Linked DNA regions of Homo sapiens: region 2 is linked to region 1. The links come from fine-mapping of genetic effects on gene expression. Tissue or cell type: whole blood. Region 1 holds a variant in brackets; the other region holds the start of a gene. All regions are shown on one strand. Distances are from middle to middle.

What was found. PIP is the estimated chance that this variant, and not a neighbour inherited with it, causes the effect.
Region 2: it holds the start of HTRA3, and the variant in region 1 is fine-mapped to the expression of HTRA3 in whole blood (TOPMed, PIP above 0.99).

What each region holds. Positions count from the first base shown.
Region 1 is chr4:8,398,399-8,406,643 of GRCh38, reverse strand. It overlaps ACOX3 (acyl-CoA oxidase 3, pristanoyl), which reads left to right. Exons shown (of 18, transcript NM_003501.3): 7 at 601-689; 8 at 6,992-7,088. Among named protein-coding and RNA genes, the nearest start is that of ACOX3, 38 kb to the left of the region's middle. RefSeq lists a silencer at 3,023-3,220. The variant G/A (reference allele first, on the strand shown) is at 3,769.
Region 2 is chr4:8,264,822-8,272,821 of GRCh38, reverse strand. HTRA3 (HtrA serine peptidase 3) reads right to left here and starts at 3,068. Exons shown (of 9, transcript NM_053044.5): 1 at 2,469-3,068. The coding sequence starts at 2,853. LOC105374373 (a long non-coding RNA gene) reads left to right here and starts at 2,641. Exons shown (of 2, transcript XR_001741572.2): 1 at 2,641-2,715; 2 at 3,426-4,216. RefSeq lists a silencer at 5,383-5,532.

The DNA of each region.
Region 1 (8,245 bases):
ATGTGGTCTTACCTATCATTGGAGATGGCTCACTCTCCTTATCCTGCCTTTGTCTTGTATCCAATAAGTATCAGTGCAGCCTGGCCTTCGGGGCCACTACCGGTCTCCGTGTCTTGGTGGTAGTGGTCCCCCGGACCCAGCCGTCTTTTCTTTTATCTCTTTGTCTTGTGTCTTTATCTCTATGCTCTCTTGTCTCCACACACGGGGAGAAACCCACTGACCCTGTGGGGCTGATCCCTACAGCCCCAGCGCTGTACTCTGTGCCTCCGTCTCCACATGGCCCCCTCTTCCCCACACCCACTCCTCTTCTGATTCTCATAGGACACTTGCCGTGGGATTTAGGGCCCACCTGGGTGATTTGGGATGACCTTATCTTGATGCTCTTAAATTCATTATATCTGCAGGACCCTATTTCCAAATAAGCTTCCATTCCCAGGTCCTGGGGTTAGGACTTGGATGTATCATTTCTGGAGGATGGTTTAACCCACAGCCGCCCAGCGTTGAGCCCATGGCCCACCCTGTGGGTTTCTGAACACATTTGTTTTGATTTTTGTGTGATTGTAACAGTTGCTGTTTGCTGCTTTCTGTGGCTTTGTATAGATCCGGGACCCGAAGACCCTTCTTCCCATGCCTGGAGTGATGGTTGGCGACATAGGAAAAAAACTCGGGCAGAACGGTCTGGATAATGGGTGAGTGACAGAGGCTGCTGAGCCCTGAGCTTCCTGCCAAGGCCCAGGCTGCGTTGTCGCTCATGTCTGAGATCTCACTGGCCCCATGGATGCCATGCCCTGCCCTCTTAGACTCAAATGCGGTGGGGACCTACGCCTAGCCCCCGTGCATGCACTGGCCACGTCCTGCTTGAACTCCACTTTGGGAGGCCAACTTGATCAGAGACCTCAGCAAACCAGCTTCACCTTGGCAGGCGGCTCCACACTCTCAGATCAGACCCAGACCTCTGTGTACAACTGGTGGGGCCCCTGCCTGGGGGGCTGCCTCCTCTGTGTGAGGTCCTCCTCAGCATCCTGAGCCTCCCCCGGCTCGGCCTCTGCACACATCCATGCTGATCTCGAGGGACCCATATCTGCAGTTTCTGCCTCCAGAGTAGGCTTGCTCCTTTCCGGGTAATCCCAGTGTCACAGCACTTAGAAAGAGAATTCCGCTGGCTTATTTGTTTAATCAGCCCACATATATCTATTTAGCAGCACACATGTGACACCGGGTTGGTGTGGCCAAGGCCTGGCTGAAGGGTTGGATGGGGCGTGCAGAGGGGAGGGGCCTAGAAAGACTAATGAATGCTTGATGGCCACATGGAGGCCTGGGTGGCCGGGGAGAAGTGGCCAGTGATTTTGGAATGTGCAGCGTTTCAGGTGGAGGAAGCAGTGGGAAGTGTCAGGCCCAGGCCTGTGCTGGGATGCAGGCGGGGTAGGGAGGCCAGGCCGCAAGGGCCTTGAGGGTCTTTGAGGGATTGGATTTTGGAGCTCCAGGTCATTAGCAGCATGACTTTTGGAATGAGACAGATGTGCAGCCGGCCCTTTGTGTCACCTTGACCAGCTTTCTTGGCATTTCCTCATCTGTAAAGTAGGTGACAAGAGAGGTCCCTGTGCCAGGGCCCTGCCAGGCCCTGCCTGAGCAGGCCGGGCTTGAACTTCCTGGCCACTGGCCCATTTGGTGCCTCCCTCACTGCGAATGCTGGACTCCACACGCTGTCTCCCCCGAGAGCCTGATCCAGCAGGGTGTAGACCCCTCTGTGCCCACGAGATGATTTATAACTTGGGGGTAGTGGGACAAGGTATGACCATGCCTGAGCCTGATAGCCTGAAAGATGTCTCAGGAGTGTTTCTAGATATGCGTGTTTCATATAGTGTTTCATAGCGAGGCTGGTGGAGAGGAGAGGAGCCTGCCTTACAGGAGTTGGAAATAACTGGTTATCATGACCAGGTTGTCTCCAGAGGGAGAAGATGGGCCAGTGGGCATCTGAGCGCTCAGCGATGGAGAAACCTCCTTCTGCCTGTCTCTTCTGAGAAGTCAGGGTGATGGGCAGGGAGTGTCTTAAATCTCTGCTTGGCCCTTTAAAACAGGCAGGGCCCCAGACTGTACTAAAGAGGAAAATCTTGATTGATTTTTATACAGTGTCAACTTGAGAAGAAAGTAAAAGGACATTGTTAAAAAGCAAATTCTTGTGATTTCAGGCAAAAAAAAAAAAAAAAAGCAAAACAAGACACATATGCACAGCCCTCCTAACTCCACCTGTCCTGCAGAGTTCTGGGTTCTCACTGGCTTATACTAAAATAATACAAGGAACCTGCTAGTTAATGTTGGAGCTGGCAGGGAGGAGAGCGCCACCCCGACCTGCGGCTGTCAGTTCTCTTGAATGACTACTTTCGCAGGGTGCCTGGGAGGCGCTTGGCATGGACGGTGCCCGTGTAGCAGGTATGGAGGGTCGCTGTTCAGGCCCTTCGCCCTCAGGGCAGCGGGAAGCCCCAGCCATCTGGAGGATGTAATGCGGCTTGGTCTGTTTGAGAAGGATGGCTCTGGCCTCAGGGTGAGAAGCTCTGAAGCGCTGTGCAGGAAATGGGGTGTAGGAAGCACTGTGTTGTTCTGGAGAATCTGCATCCTTTTATTAGACCCGGCTGATCCCTTTCAGGGCTCTGCAGCCACAGGCACTGTTACCCATCTACTGAAGTGTCCTATGTGTGCACGTAAGGCCCGACAGGCATCTCCACCCGGGCATATGGCGGTGGTGAATTGTCACATCCAGTGGGTGGCCTCGGGTGTGAGCAAGGCTCTTCTTCACTGCTCATTCAGTTTCATGAATGAGAGGCTTTGACATTATTTTGGGACATTGCAGAGAAACCCTGCACTTGGTTCCCCCCTAATAAACGTATTTCTAGAGATTGAATCCACACCTCTTACTGGGATAATATTCAAAGGAGCATTAGATCAAACCATTAATGATTAATACATCACACTGATATGGTAAAGCCTCTTGTAAGACTCAGAAATACGGTCTCCTATAGGATCGCCACTAACACAATAACGACCGCCCTTTGACGCTGGTTCAGAGCTGCTCCACCAAGCCAGGTCACTGAGCCCCCAGAGCCTTTCCACCGTGTCTCTCTGCAGGGTGACAGGGATGCAGTGGGATTCGTCCATCTTTGATCCCTGAGCCTTTGAAGGCCTAGGTTGGGCTGGGATGGGAGCCAGCCGGGGTGATGCAGGCGGCCTGCTCTCCGCCCCTTTCCAGAAATGCACATTTCCCATCCAGGGCTGGAGGGTCTGGGCAGGGCACCCAGCAGGGGGCGCAGTGATACCAGTGTTCCCTCCGGGTTTCCCAGCCAGTTTCTGCCTGGATGTCTGTCTTTTCCAAGATCAGCATTATAATTTAGTGATTTTTGTTACCAATGTTGAAATCATTTATCTTGAAAAAAGTGGTTACAATTTGTAGGTTAGATTTTGTCACTTTACAAGAACTCCTGAGTATGTGGGATGACTGCCTACAAATCCAAGGTAAACGTAAATTGTGTGGATTAATTTTAGCCAAATAGCTCTAAAAGCAAAATCATAAAGATCTTCTCAAGTGATAGTTTCAGCCAGACTCTTAAGGTGGGCTGCACCTTAAGGGTCTTTCTTCGTGCGTTTGCCCTGAGCTGAGGCGGTGGCTGGGAGGATGGCTGCCGAACTCAACGGCCTGCTCTGGCGGCTTGGCTGGGCTGGGCTTGGGGGGCCCTTCCAGGCCCCAAAGGAGGAAGGAAGCTGCTGCAATAAGAA[G/A]CAGGATGTCCAGGGCGCGGGGTGTGTGCTGAGGTCTGGGCGCTTCTGGGATTGGAGTGAGGGTTTCTGTGCCACACTCAGGCCTCCCGTGCCACGTGCATGTCCAGTGACACACACACACAACTCCTGTGCTGTGCACACACACACCTGTGACACACGCACACGTCTCCCGCTGGAGACACTGGATCTGGCTTGTATTTGAGTTGGCCACATGTGACCACCACTGTAATAGCTTTTGTGGAACAGAAGGGATCCCCTGAGAATTCGTGGAAGTTTGCTTTCCTTTGAAACTCACGGGAATGTTTTTGCAAGTATAAATATATTCTGTGTGGTGAGAATGGGGGAATAATTTCCACTCCTTAAAAAGGGCGCTGACTGTGACCGGATCATACTGGAAAAGGCATTCCTTGGCTTTCAAGTAACAGGCTGGAGCACGCTGGGGCCATTGGCACCGAGGCAAGGTTTTTCTCACGAGGTGGGGTGTTCTGAGTGTGCGGCTGTGGCATGGGGGAAGCTGCTACCAAACTGGGCAGCTGGGCCTAGGGCTTTGGAGGAGCTGGCCCCCCCGCTGCCCTTCACTTCCTGCAGGTGGGCAGGGGCCTGGCAAAGCAGCCGAGAGCTCTTCCCTCACCAGGTCACCCAGGTTTCCCTAAGGAGCTCCAGCCCCGTCCCCACCCGGCCCCAGGGCCTTGCTCCTCCTGGTAGTGTGGAAACTGTCGCTGTGTCTTTCCCTCAGGCTGTCCTGGGAGTCAGGATCATGGCCTGGCCCTTGTGCCTCAGAGGATGTCGTCTGCCCCACCTGACTTGTTCATACCATGCCACTTACGTGCCCGTCCCTTAAGTCTGGCAGGCCCCATGCACGGTGGCCCCCTCATGGAGGGGGGTGAGCCCCGGGAGACTGCTGAGAGGCAGCTAGCTCACCCAGGAACCAGGAACGTTGATGGTTGAGGGATCCCACCCTGGGGTCCGCCTCATACCCTTCCCAGGGTGGGGCATAGAATTCCCAGGTGGGCCGAGGGCTGCCTGGTGTCAACAGTGACTGCATGGAGGGCATGAGGCCAGGAGAGAACCTGGTGGACGGGGCACCACAGGCAGGCAGGACCACCTCATGGCAAGGCGGTGATGCTGTTAGAGGGGCAGATGGGGCACCACAGGCAGGTGGGACCACCTCATGGCAAGGTGGCGATGCAATTAGAGGGGCAGATGGAGGTCAGCTTGGGGGGATCCTCCACATTGGCCTCCGCCATTCCGAAGGCCTTTGGGAAACGGCCCAGCTCCCACAGGGAGGATGGGCTGAAGAGGCAGAGTTAGGAAAGAGCCAATATGGTTGCTGCAGGAAATCAGCCCAGGAGAGCTGAGTAGGGATGGAGGTGCTGGGTCCTAGGTGGGGATGGAGGGGAGAAAGTGAATCGGGCCAGCACAGCAGAGCTGGCAGCCCAGGACCGGGTGACAATGGGGGTGTGGGGGCATCCTGAGCAGGACTCAAGGAAGAGCCCACGCAGGAAACGGGTGCCTCTGGTTCCCTTCCAGCATGTGAGATTATTCTTTATAGATGAGTCTTCTGTGGTTTAGTAAAAGACTATTCTGTAGGCAGGGGTCCCCAACCCCGTGGTACTAGTCTGTGGCCTGTTAGGAACTAGGCCACCCAGCAGGAGGTGAGCATCGGGTGAGCCAGCAAAGCTTCCTCTGTGTTTATAGCCACTCCCCATTGCTCACATGACTGCCTGAGCTCCGCCTCCTGTCAGATCGGTGGCGGCATTAGATTCTTATAGGAGCGTGAATCCTACTGTGAACTGCGCATGTGAGGGATCTAAGGCGAGCGCTCCTTATGAGAATCTAATACCTGATGATCTGTCACTGCCTCCCATCACCCCCAGATGGGACCATCTAGTTGCAGGAAAACAAGCTCAGGCTCCCACTGATTTTGCAATTTTGCATTATGGCTAATTGTATAATCATTTCATTATGTGTTACCATGTAATAATAATAGAAATAAAGTGCACAATAAATATAATGTGCTTGAATCATCCCGAAACCACTCCCACCTCCCCCTCATTCGTGGAAAAATTGTCTTCCATAAAACCGGTCCCTGGTGCCAAAAAGGTTGCGGACTGCTGCCCTAAGGCATTGCAAGTGAACTTAGGAATCAGACAAGTTGCTATAGGAACTATTGATATTTTGAAGTTTGTTTTGGGGGGTTTTTGCACAGTTTATGTAATATTCTTAACCTAGCATAGCCTTATTCCCTAGACTGTTGTGTAATAGGTTTTCCTGACCAGACAACCATAACAGGTATCTTTGGTTATTAATACATCATGATCCATAACAATGTGTGTGTAATCCTATGCTCAGCTGTTCAAAAGAAGTGAATTTCCTTGCCGAGGGAGCACCAATGCCATCACACCAGTTATTTTGTTTGACTGAAGAGTTTTAAACCTCATTTTGCCAATATTATTACACTGTGGGTTCTGGTTTAAGATTGAAATATGAGAATCAGAGATTCCAATCTTTGGAAACACAGTTCCCGTCTTTTCTGTTGAATATCTGGAGTTCTGTACTTGGAGTACAACTTACCATATACACAATGCTTTTATTATTATTATTATTATTATTATTATTATTATTGAGGTGGAGTCTTGCTCTGTCACCAAGGCTGGAGTGCAGTGGCGTGATCTTGGCTCACTGCAACTTCCGCCGCCCGGGTTCAAACAATTCTCCTGTCTCAGCCTCCTGAGTAGCTGGGACTACAGGCACATGCCACCACTCCTGGCTAATTTTTTTTTGTATTTTTAGTAGAGACGGGGTTTCACCATATTGGTCAGGCTGGTTTCGAACTCCTGACCTGAGGTGATCCACCCACCTCGGCCTCCCAAAGTGCTGGGATTACAGGCGTAAGCCACCACACCCAGCCTATTTTTTAACCTACATTTTTTTCTTTTTTAGAAACAGGGTCTCACTGTGTTGCCCAGGCTGGTCTCAAACTCCTGGGCTCAAGCAATCCTCCTGCCTCAGTCTTCCAAAGAGTTGGGATTCTGGGCGTGAGCCACTGTTCCTGACTAGACTACTTTTTTGAATAGAAAGTTGGTTGAATGTTCCTGTCTACTTGCCCTCTGCCATTTTCTTTGTCCTCGGGGATTGCATCAGCTTTTAGGCTGCCCTTGGAGAAGAGAAGAGCCTCAGGGCAGGACCCCTGTTTAACAGAAGCCCTGCTGCTTCCCCACAGTTTCGCCATGTTCCACAAGGTCAGAGTTCCTCGCCAGAGCCTTCTGAACCGGATGGGAGACGTCACCCCCGAGGGCACCTATGTCAGCCCCTTTAAGGTACAGGCATGGGGGGCCGTTCGTGTGCCGTGCTTCCCAGGTGCCTTCCTCTGCAGGGCCTGGCTCTGTGCTCCTCCCTGCACCTGGAAAGGAGACCCCTCCACGTAGGCCAGGTGTCGCTGGGGCATACTTCTCCTGGCTCGGGTTCTGGTGCTCCCGCTAGAAGGGGACTCTTGGGGCAGCCACAGCACCAGGTGCTGGTGTCCAGGGGGTGAGTCCGGGCCTTACAATGCCCACTCCCCATCGGGGGCTGCGATTAGAGGACTGCTCGCTTCCAGTGATGCTTCCCTGAGGATTTGAAGGAGACGGGTCTCCTGGCGAACTGTCCACAAAGGGGGACGACAAACAGAGTTCCCCGGTGTCCAGAACTCACGCCTGGCTTAAGTTCACGGAGAGCAGAAGAGAGACCGTGGTCCTGGGGAGCGATGGCCCAGGTCATAGCTGATGACCCTCAGGAATCATGAGCTCACAGCAGGTGGGCCACCCCGAGCATGCACCCTTGGAATAACAGTCCCCAGCAGCATGCAGCATCTGACATCAGGAAGCACGGATGGAAAAGGAGCATGATGGGGATGCCCAGAGACACACAGGGTGCGCAGAGTGGGAACAGCAACACGAGACCAGGAGCTGCTCACAAACGGAGATGTTAATCCAACATCAATTAAAAATAAATGATTGGAAGAACAGGCACAGCATTTGGGATAACTATCTCAGGAGGATGAATTAGGGATTGGAAGCTTGTCCTCTAGAAGGCAGAAGGAGAGGATTAAAGAAAATGAAGGCTGGGTGCAGTGGCTCACGCCCGTAACCCTAGCACTGTGGGAGGCCAAAGTGGGCAGATCGCTTGAGCCCAGGAGTTCCAGACCAGCCTGGGCAATATGGCAAAACCCCGTCTCTACTAAAAATGCAAAAATTAGCCGGGCATGGTAGCGTGTGCCTGTGGTCCGTTACTTGGTGGGAGGTGGGAGGATCACTAGAGCCCAGGAAGTCAGGCTGCAGTGAGCTATGATTGCATCACTGCACTCCAGCGTGGGCAACAGAGCGAGACCCTGTCTCAAAAGAGAAGGAAAGAAAGAAATGAAGTTTAGAGAAATAAAGGAGAGAAATGTCTCTAAATGAGAGGGGAAGAAGGCTTTTGGTTGAAGGGACTCTTGGAG
Region 2 (8,000 bases), 130 kb after region 1:
CCCATTTCCCCACCTGGCTCCGTGGGCTCTGGTGGCGACAGGGCTCTCGGGTCCTGTGCAGGTCTCTGCCTTGCCCATGCCCTCTCTGTCCTCCCCATCCTTCCCCAGGCAGTTCCCAGTCCTCCTCCACAGCTTGGCACAGAAGCGCCTCCTCTGGAGAGCCTCTCCTGACCTTGCTGGGTGAGACAGATTTGGGTCGGTCGCCACAGTGATAACAACATATGAAACAACGTGGTCTGGGGGTTGCCCATCAGGCAAGGGGCGTGTGCCTTCGTGTCTGGCAGCAGCTCTCCTGCAGGTCCCCGCTTCTCATTTGAGGAAACTCACGGTGAGCAAGTGGTCTAAGGTCACCTCATCGGGAAGAGGTGCGCTGGGACTGCAGACCCCGGAGCACTGAGGCCTCAGCCCATGACCCCCCACGCTCACGGCCACCTCCTGGCCTTCTGAGCTCCCCATGCACCTGTCTCTGGGGATAAGACTATTTTCCTCCTCCCTTCTGTCCCCTCGATGGTCTGTGAGGCTTGAGGGCACCAACAGGGTCTGCTACATGGCTGTGCCCTGTCACCAGCCTGGGGCCAGCCAGGCACACAGAGAAAGTGCCTCATGACGCGAACTCCAGAAGTCAGTGAGTGTCTCAGAACACCCAGGCTGCCTCCAGCTCCCTGCCAGCCCTGAGCCCTGCAGCCCTATTCTCATAGTGCCTTCCACGGTGGGGAGCGGGGTGGGGAGGTGGCCCCCATGCACACAGCTGGGCTGCAACGGGCAGGCCCAGGAAAGGTACCCCAGCACCAAGCCCCAAACTGATGTGCCACTGTGACAGTGCAGCAGGCGTTGAGTCAATGACAACGTCTCCAAGACCCCGCAGCCCCACACTCGCACCCCTCAGCCTCCTGGGCAGTCTCAACACAAGCCGGACCTCATCACCCTCACCCCCATGATGGTTTGAACATGTTCCCTCCAAAACAGAGGTGTTGCCAATGTGATGGTATGAAAAGGTGGGGTGTTAGGAGGTGATGAGGTCACAAGGGTTCCTCCTTTCGAGCGTGGGCAGAAGCTCCTTATGAGAGAGGCTACAGGCAGCGTTCGGCCTTGTCCCTGCCTGCACTTCTGCCGTGTGAAGACGCAGCTTCCTCCCTTCCGCAGAGTGCAGCCCTCACCAGACAACCAAGCCTGCTGGCACCTTGGTCTTGAACTTTCCAGCCTCCAGAGCTGCGAGAAATACATCTCTGTCCTGTATAAACTGCCCAGTCTCAGGCGTTGTACCAGCACAAGGTGGACTGGGACTCCCCGCCAAACCCTGCGGTGGCTCTTCCACATAATCCTAGCTAATCTCGAATGATGCTTCCCACACGGGGCTCCCAGGAACCCCAGCGTGCTGGGAGGAGGTCACGTGTTCTGCCAGAAAAGAAGAGCTCTCTGTTGAAATTCTCTGGGGAAGCCCTGGGTTTCATCAATTGAGGACACTGCAGGTTTTCTCAGAACCTCTGATAGATTGAGCCTGTGAGTCTCCACTACAGGAATAGAGCGCTCAGTTCCCCAACCTTTTTACACCATGAAAACACTTGGAATTGTGTTCAGCGGACCGCAGAAAAAATGAGGAAGCCCTCTGCAGGCTTCCCAGGAGCCCCGGCAGTTGGTGCTCCCCATGGTGCTCCTGAGGCTCCACGGAGCCTGTTCTGGCAGCTACTGCATCTCTCCCTGCCACCTGCAAGCTGATGGCACGCAGGACCCTGACTCCTATCCATGAACCTGGGGCCCGTCGCCTGTCTTCAGTGAACCCCTGTCCGGCCACAGCAGAGTCTGCTTTCCTAAGAGGCACCCCAAACAGGGAAAAAGGTACAGCAGGTTTTCCAGCATTTTCCTCCACGTACAGAGTCAACCTGCACGGTGAGATGCAACCTAGAGCCGACTGCCTCAAGGGAGGCTGTTCTAGGGTCTGACCCCGACATTCTCTCCCCCAAGCAGCCTCTCCCTGGGGCGCCCTAAGCAGTTCAGGGACCTGCACCCTGACCCTTCCCACACAGTCCTGTGGAGACATGCACTTAACCACAGTCTCCAGGAAAGAAGGCATCACCCAAGAGGGCACCCCGGCTGGAGAGTTAGGGCAGGAAAGAGTGCCCTTCACTCAATACCCGGACAGAGCAGGGGTCCAAGGATCAAGGGAATGGGCACGAGACATCAGTTCTGAAGAGACCAGAGCTGGAAACAGTCCTAGATGAGGCCCCTCGGGTGGCCAGGAGACCACCGGGTTTCCCTTTTGACTCTAATTCTGTGACCTTGGGGACAGCGGTTTACCTTTCCGGGCCTCAGTTTCTTCATCTGAAAGACCAGAGGGCTGGTGGGATGATTTCTGAAGGGCCACCCGGTGGTGCCCAGGGAAGGGCGACCTCGAGCTCGGCCCTAACTCCCGGCCTTAGTTTCCCCAAGAGAAAGAAGCTTCACTTCCTCCCTGGCCCCCGAGCGCTTACCCAACGGGCAGGCGCCCTTCTGCAGCTGGCGCACGGGCGTCCCGGAGAGCTGCAGCGCGCGGCGGCTGGCCGCCTGCAGCGCGCACACGTTGGCATAGGTGTGCCCGTCGGTGCCACACACGGCGTGCGACCAGCGGCAGCGGCATAGGCCGCGCACGCACTCCAGGCTCTCGCCGCAAGGCGAGTCCAGAGGGCCGCCACAGGGCTCGCCCTCGCTGGCGGCGCACACCAGGCAGCAGTTGCAGAGGTCGGGCACGTAGCCGCCGGGGCAGCGGGGGCTGGGACACCGCGACACGTCGCAGCGCGCGGGACACGGCGCCGCAGGGGGCTCCCGGGCCAGCGCCAGCGCGGCCAACGCGGCCAGGAGCAGCGCTCGCGCCTGCATGGCGGCAGGGCCGGCGGCGGGTGGCAGCGCGGGAGACCGGGCGGGGGCCGGCGGGGACAACGAGGCCGCTGCGGGGCCGGGCGCCGGGCGCCTACGGATGGGACTGGGGCGGACGCGCGGTCACATGCGCCGGTGGCTCAGGCTGGCGGGCGTCAGGGCGGCAGGGGCATCCCCAGGGCGCAGGGAGCGCAGGGACCAGCTCCCTCCAGCCTGACGGTCCGCGGGCGGCGGGTCCCGCGCCTTTAAAGGCGACCGCCCAGCCCGCCCTCGCTGGAAGGGGCGGCCCGGCCCCTCCGCCAGCCCCGCCCAGGCCCCGACAGGGCCCCGCCTGGCCTTCCGGGCCTGGACCCACCCGGCAGGCCTTGGGACTCTGGTCGGCCTGGTCGAGAAAACCCGAGGCTACAGACACGCAGGGGTCCTTTCTGGTGGGGACCCCCGGGCCCAGCCTATCCCAGAAACGTTGGGGGATGCGTTCTCCCCGCTCTGGAGGGGTCTGTCCGTGTCCAGTCTCCTCTGTGCCTCAGTTTCCTCCTCCAGGAAAGGGGAATTGACAGCATTTCTCAACCTCATAGGGTCGTTGGAAGAACCACAGAGGCCATGGCTGAGCAGTGTTCCCGAGTCCTCGCTGTCCACGGAACCGGAAGCTGTTTCCATTCTCATCATTGCTCCTGCATTTTCTGCAGGGCCCCTTCAGACCCAGGTCCCATCACGAGAGTCAGAATCTGGTGACAGTGCGTCAGCTGATGGGGTGAAGGCTGCGGAGTTGTGAGAGAAGGCAGAACCCCCCTTGGAGGTGAATGTCAAGCCTGAAGAGGAAGGATGGGAAGCGGGAGCTGGCCGTGACCTGGGCAGAGGCTCCCAAGCAAAAGCAGGTCGGGGCAGCAGGAGATAACGCCGCGCGCACAGCCTGGAGCTGCGGTCTTCACACTGTGTGTGTTCCTAGTACCCTGGGCTGCCTGGCGAAGCCTGGGTGTCCTTTTCAGAACGATGTCGTCAAGTAGATTTAAACGCATAAAACAAAGACCATGGGGTCACAAAGGGGAACAATTCTATCAAAACACAGTTATCAAAATACATGAAACAATTCATGACAGCGTGGCCTATGGGCTTCTTTATCAGCATGTTAATGGCAGGTTCTGGTCGGTCTGTCGTCTGATACCAGTGGACACTTCGCAGCAGCCCTGTGCAGAGGGCTGCCACTGGAGACACCTTCGGTGAGGGCGGTAACATGGGGATGTAAACACTGCTTCTGCTGGCCGTGGAGCCACAGGCCCTGCTGGCTGGGGTCAACTGCACCCCCAAAGGAATGAATGCTGGACTTCAGTTGGAGTTGTTGGGGTAAATAAAGACGTTTTTCCATCCAGGTTCACAGATACCCAAGTTAAGAATGGGGAGGGGTACCTCTGGTCCAGAGGAGGGAGGGGGAGCTGGAGGTTAAAGGGCCTCGGGGAATGGGAAGGTGGAGGGGCCTGATCCCTGAGGGCCCTGGGTCCTCAAAGGCCTGGGGAGGCGTTGAGTAGGGAGCGGCCCCATCAGACAAGATGTCTGGGGAGGATGAGGTGGGAGGAGGCGGGGCGCCAAGTGTGAGCCCCCATAGGACCCAGAGAGAGTGAAAGGTTGAAGGGTCCCAGGGGACGGGGAGAGAAGGGACCTGGAGCTTCTCCCCCTAAAAGGCCCTTTGACAAGGGGCAATAGCACCTGCGTTTCTGCCTCTACAAACCTCAAGTGCACTTTACTTTGAAGATGTGGAGAATTTCAGGCCATTTTTTGGAATGACCCAGAATGCTAGGAGTTGGGGACCTCAGGGCTGGGCTGAACCTCCCTCAACCTTGGCCAGGGCTCCCGGTTCATGTCTCTGCAGGGTGGGCTTGCCTAAGGCGCAAGGAGAATTTTTCACGTGCCCAGGATGCCTGCCCCTCGAGTAAGCCTTGGTGGGCTACTGTGGCCCAGAGCTGGCTTTTTGGGGGGCCTGTGTTTTCCTGCAGACACCTGGCCCTGAAGATCAACACTTTTCCATCCCTGGATCCTTCAGTGCGCAGAAAACTAAGTCCCTGGGAAGGGCCCAAGAGCTCATTTCCCCTAAGCTTTTCCTCTACAATGGGGAAACTGAGTCTCTGAGAGAGTCCAGGACCGGCGCTGCAGCAGGTCAGAGTTTGCACAGCCTGCCACAGCTTCCAAGGAACCACAGCTACCGATGTGTAGGCCCTGAGGCTGCTGGAGCGCTCTGCATACACTTGACTCAGTCTTCACGAAGCGCCTGAGAGGTGGGCGTTAGGATCCTTAGAACAGGGCTGGGGGAGTGCAAGGCCAGAGATTCTGGCAGGTGGGCCTCAGATCTTGGCCTGTCCTTAGGTCAAGTCCTTGCTCCTCCCTGGAGACCATGCTGCCCCCAACGGTCACCATCTTGACCACCTTGCAGTGGGGATTTAGTCCTCTTGTACAGAGAGGGAAACTGAGGCCCGGAGTGAAAAGACCCTTCTCTGCTCTGCAGCTGGGATGCAGTTCCCTGGGGTGGCCTTTGCTCTTCCCTGAAATGGGCAGGCAGGGCTCACAGTGGCTGCCTTGAGCTTGGCAGGAGCCCAGCGCTGTCCTCAGGAGAGCCGCGCCCCCTGCTGCTCCCGCCCTGCACTGCCTCTCACTCAGTAAACTTTGGGGCCTCCCATCCCCAACCCTGAACACCTGACTTAGGGGCCAGGAGTAGGAGAGGATTCCCCAAGGGCCTGGGATCCACCCGGGAGGTTCCTCTAAGTCTCTGGCTTCCCAGCACAGGACCGCCTCTGTCGTCAGCCCAGAGCTCCAGATACAGGCTCCGCCAGGCCAACGTGTGCAGGCGCAGGGCCGGCCCTCTGGCCCGTGTTATCTCAGCTCGTTCTTCAACAATGCCAGGAAGCTTGTTTAATTTACGTACACCCCTCCTTCGCTCATTTCTACTTACTCCCGCTTGTCACCCTGCCCGAAATATTGATAGTTCTTTACAAACAAGCATAAGATGAGACGTTGCTTATCCTCAGTGGAATGGAATTCACTCCCTCCAGGCTGGGCCTGGGTCTGCCTCTCTCCAGGGTACTCTTGTCCCATGCCAGGACCCCATGGCCCCATCCCATCCCTCCATCTCCGCCCAGAGCTGGACAGCAGTGCGCATCCTGGGCCTGCAGAGGAGCCCTCCAAGCTGTGGGCAGGCTCGGCCCTTTGGCTTGACCCCTGCCCAAGTCCAGGCTTCGTCTCAGATGAGGTCATCACTTACACCACTCCAGGGACCTTGAAGACCATCATCAGCTGTGATAAGACGCGGTGGCTGTGTGAGTGGGTGACTCAGAGGGTGGGCTCTGCTCAGGCTGATGGGTGGGGGGTGGGCGTAGGTTGTGATATGGGCCACCCTTTCTGCACCTCCCAACACTGACATCAGCTCTGCCGTCCTTGGGTGCTTCTGTAAGCTCTGGGAACAACCCCTCAAGGGGGAATGCCAGTTACAGCCATTTTATAGGTACAGAAAGCCGAGCTAGGGGAGTTTACACGACTTGCCGAAGGCCCCTCAGCCTTTAGGTGATGGACCCAGGCTTAGGAAAAGTCGGATCTGACCCCAAAGTGTATGTTCTTCCTCCAGAGCCACACTGCTGTTCCATACCCATTTTATGGAAGGAAAAACTGAGGCCCACAAAGGGAAAGTGGGTGGCTGAGACAACCAGGCTAACTGATACTAGTAGGTCGCATTGATTGAGCTTCTGTGATGTACTGTGTACTAGGGACTGTGCAGGTGTCTAGCCCTTACCACACCCTCTGAAGGAGGTCTTACTATTGCCATGCCCATTGCACAGATAAAGAAAGCAAGGCACAGAGAGGCTCAACAGCTCATCGCTGTGTCCAAGATCACACAGTGAGTGAGCTGCAGCATTGGATTGGAACCTAGGCAGAGGGACTCATCTTGTACAGAAGCGAAGTGGAGGCTCACAGGAGGAAGGCTGGGAGGAGGGGGAAGGAGCGGGGAGATGGCTTCGAGGGCATGGAACCCACCCTGGCTGATGAAATGAAACGATGAATCAGGGTCACGCAGCTGGGCAAGGGTCTCCTTTTTCTTTTTCACATGGCGCTCCTCCTTTGGCTTTCTGGAGCCCGAACCCCTCTTGGAAATCACCCTGACTCCACCCAGCCCTGCCAGGAGGGGCTGAATGTGAACACCCTGGACCACAGCGGCCTCTGCCTCCTGGGAGGGGATGTCCTGTCCAGGGAGGGGGCTCTCCCAAGACTGCCAGCCCCACCTGCCCGCAGACGGTGCTGCTGTCCTGGAGGCCGCTCGGCCTCTGTCCACCTTCTGAGGGGCCACTGGCCAGGGGTCGTCTGAGGCCTCCATCCTCCAGTGGGAGCTGGGGTGAGGTAATGGCCTAAATTGTGGTTCTGGCCACCTGGGTGTCAGGAATAGGGAAGCTGTCGGGGGTGAGTAGGGGGGACACTGCTCTGTGGGGTAAGGCTGGGATGCTTGAGCTGCCTCTGTAGGGTCCCAGGGGCCTGGGGGACTGAAGAGGGCCGGGAAGGTGGGGCTTCCGCCCTGAGGGGCAAGGAGGCCTCTGGTGACCCTCGGGCTCCTGCGGGGAAACAGCTGCTCCTCAGGTGCCTCCTCCACAGTGCGAGTGCTGAGCCCGTTCCCACTGCTCCCTGACCAGGTGTGGTTGAATCCTGTGACCATTCCCATGTCCTAGGGAAGAACGCAGAGGCTCCGAGAGGTGAAGTGACACCCCACCCCTCATCCCTAAATGCCACCACCTCTAAGATACGCTCGGGCAAAATGCCTCAACAGCTCACACCCATGCACAGCCGTCTCTATCTGAAACACACACAAACCTCCACCCGCTGTCGTCTCTTCCCTGACCCAACCTGACCCCCTCCCTCCCAAGTCCTGGGAGTCAGCCCCACCCTCGTCCTAGAGACTCCACGGGTGGGGACAGCAGTGCATCCGGCCTCCCTGTTCCCAGGACCCCCACTGCAGGGACTTCCTCCTCCATCCCTCCCGGGCCCCAACTCCCACACCCAGCTCCAGCATCACCTGAAACTGCTCCACCTTCCCAGACCCTGATTTCCAGCACACCTCATCCCACGCTACCTGGCCATGTGGGCCTCCATTTCCAGCCCACCCCGTCCCATGCTACCTGGCC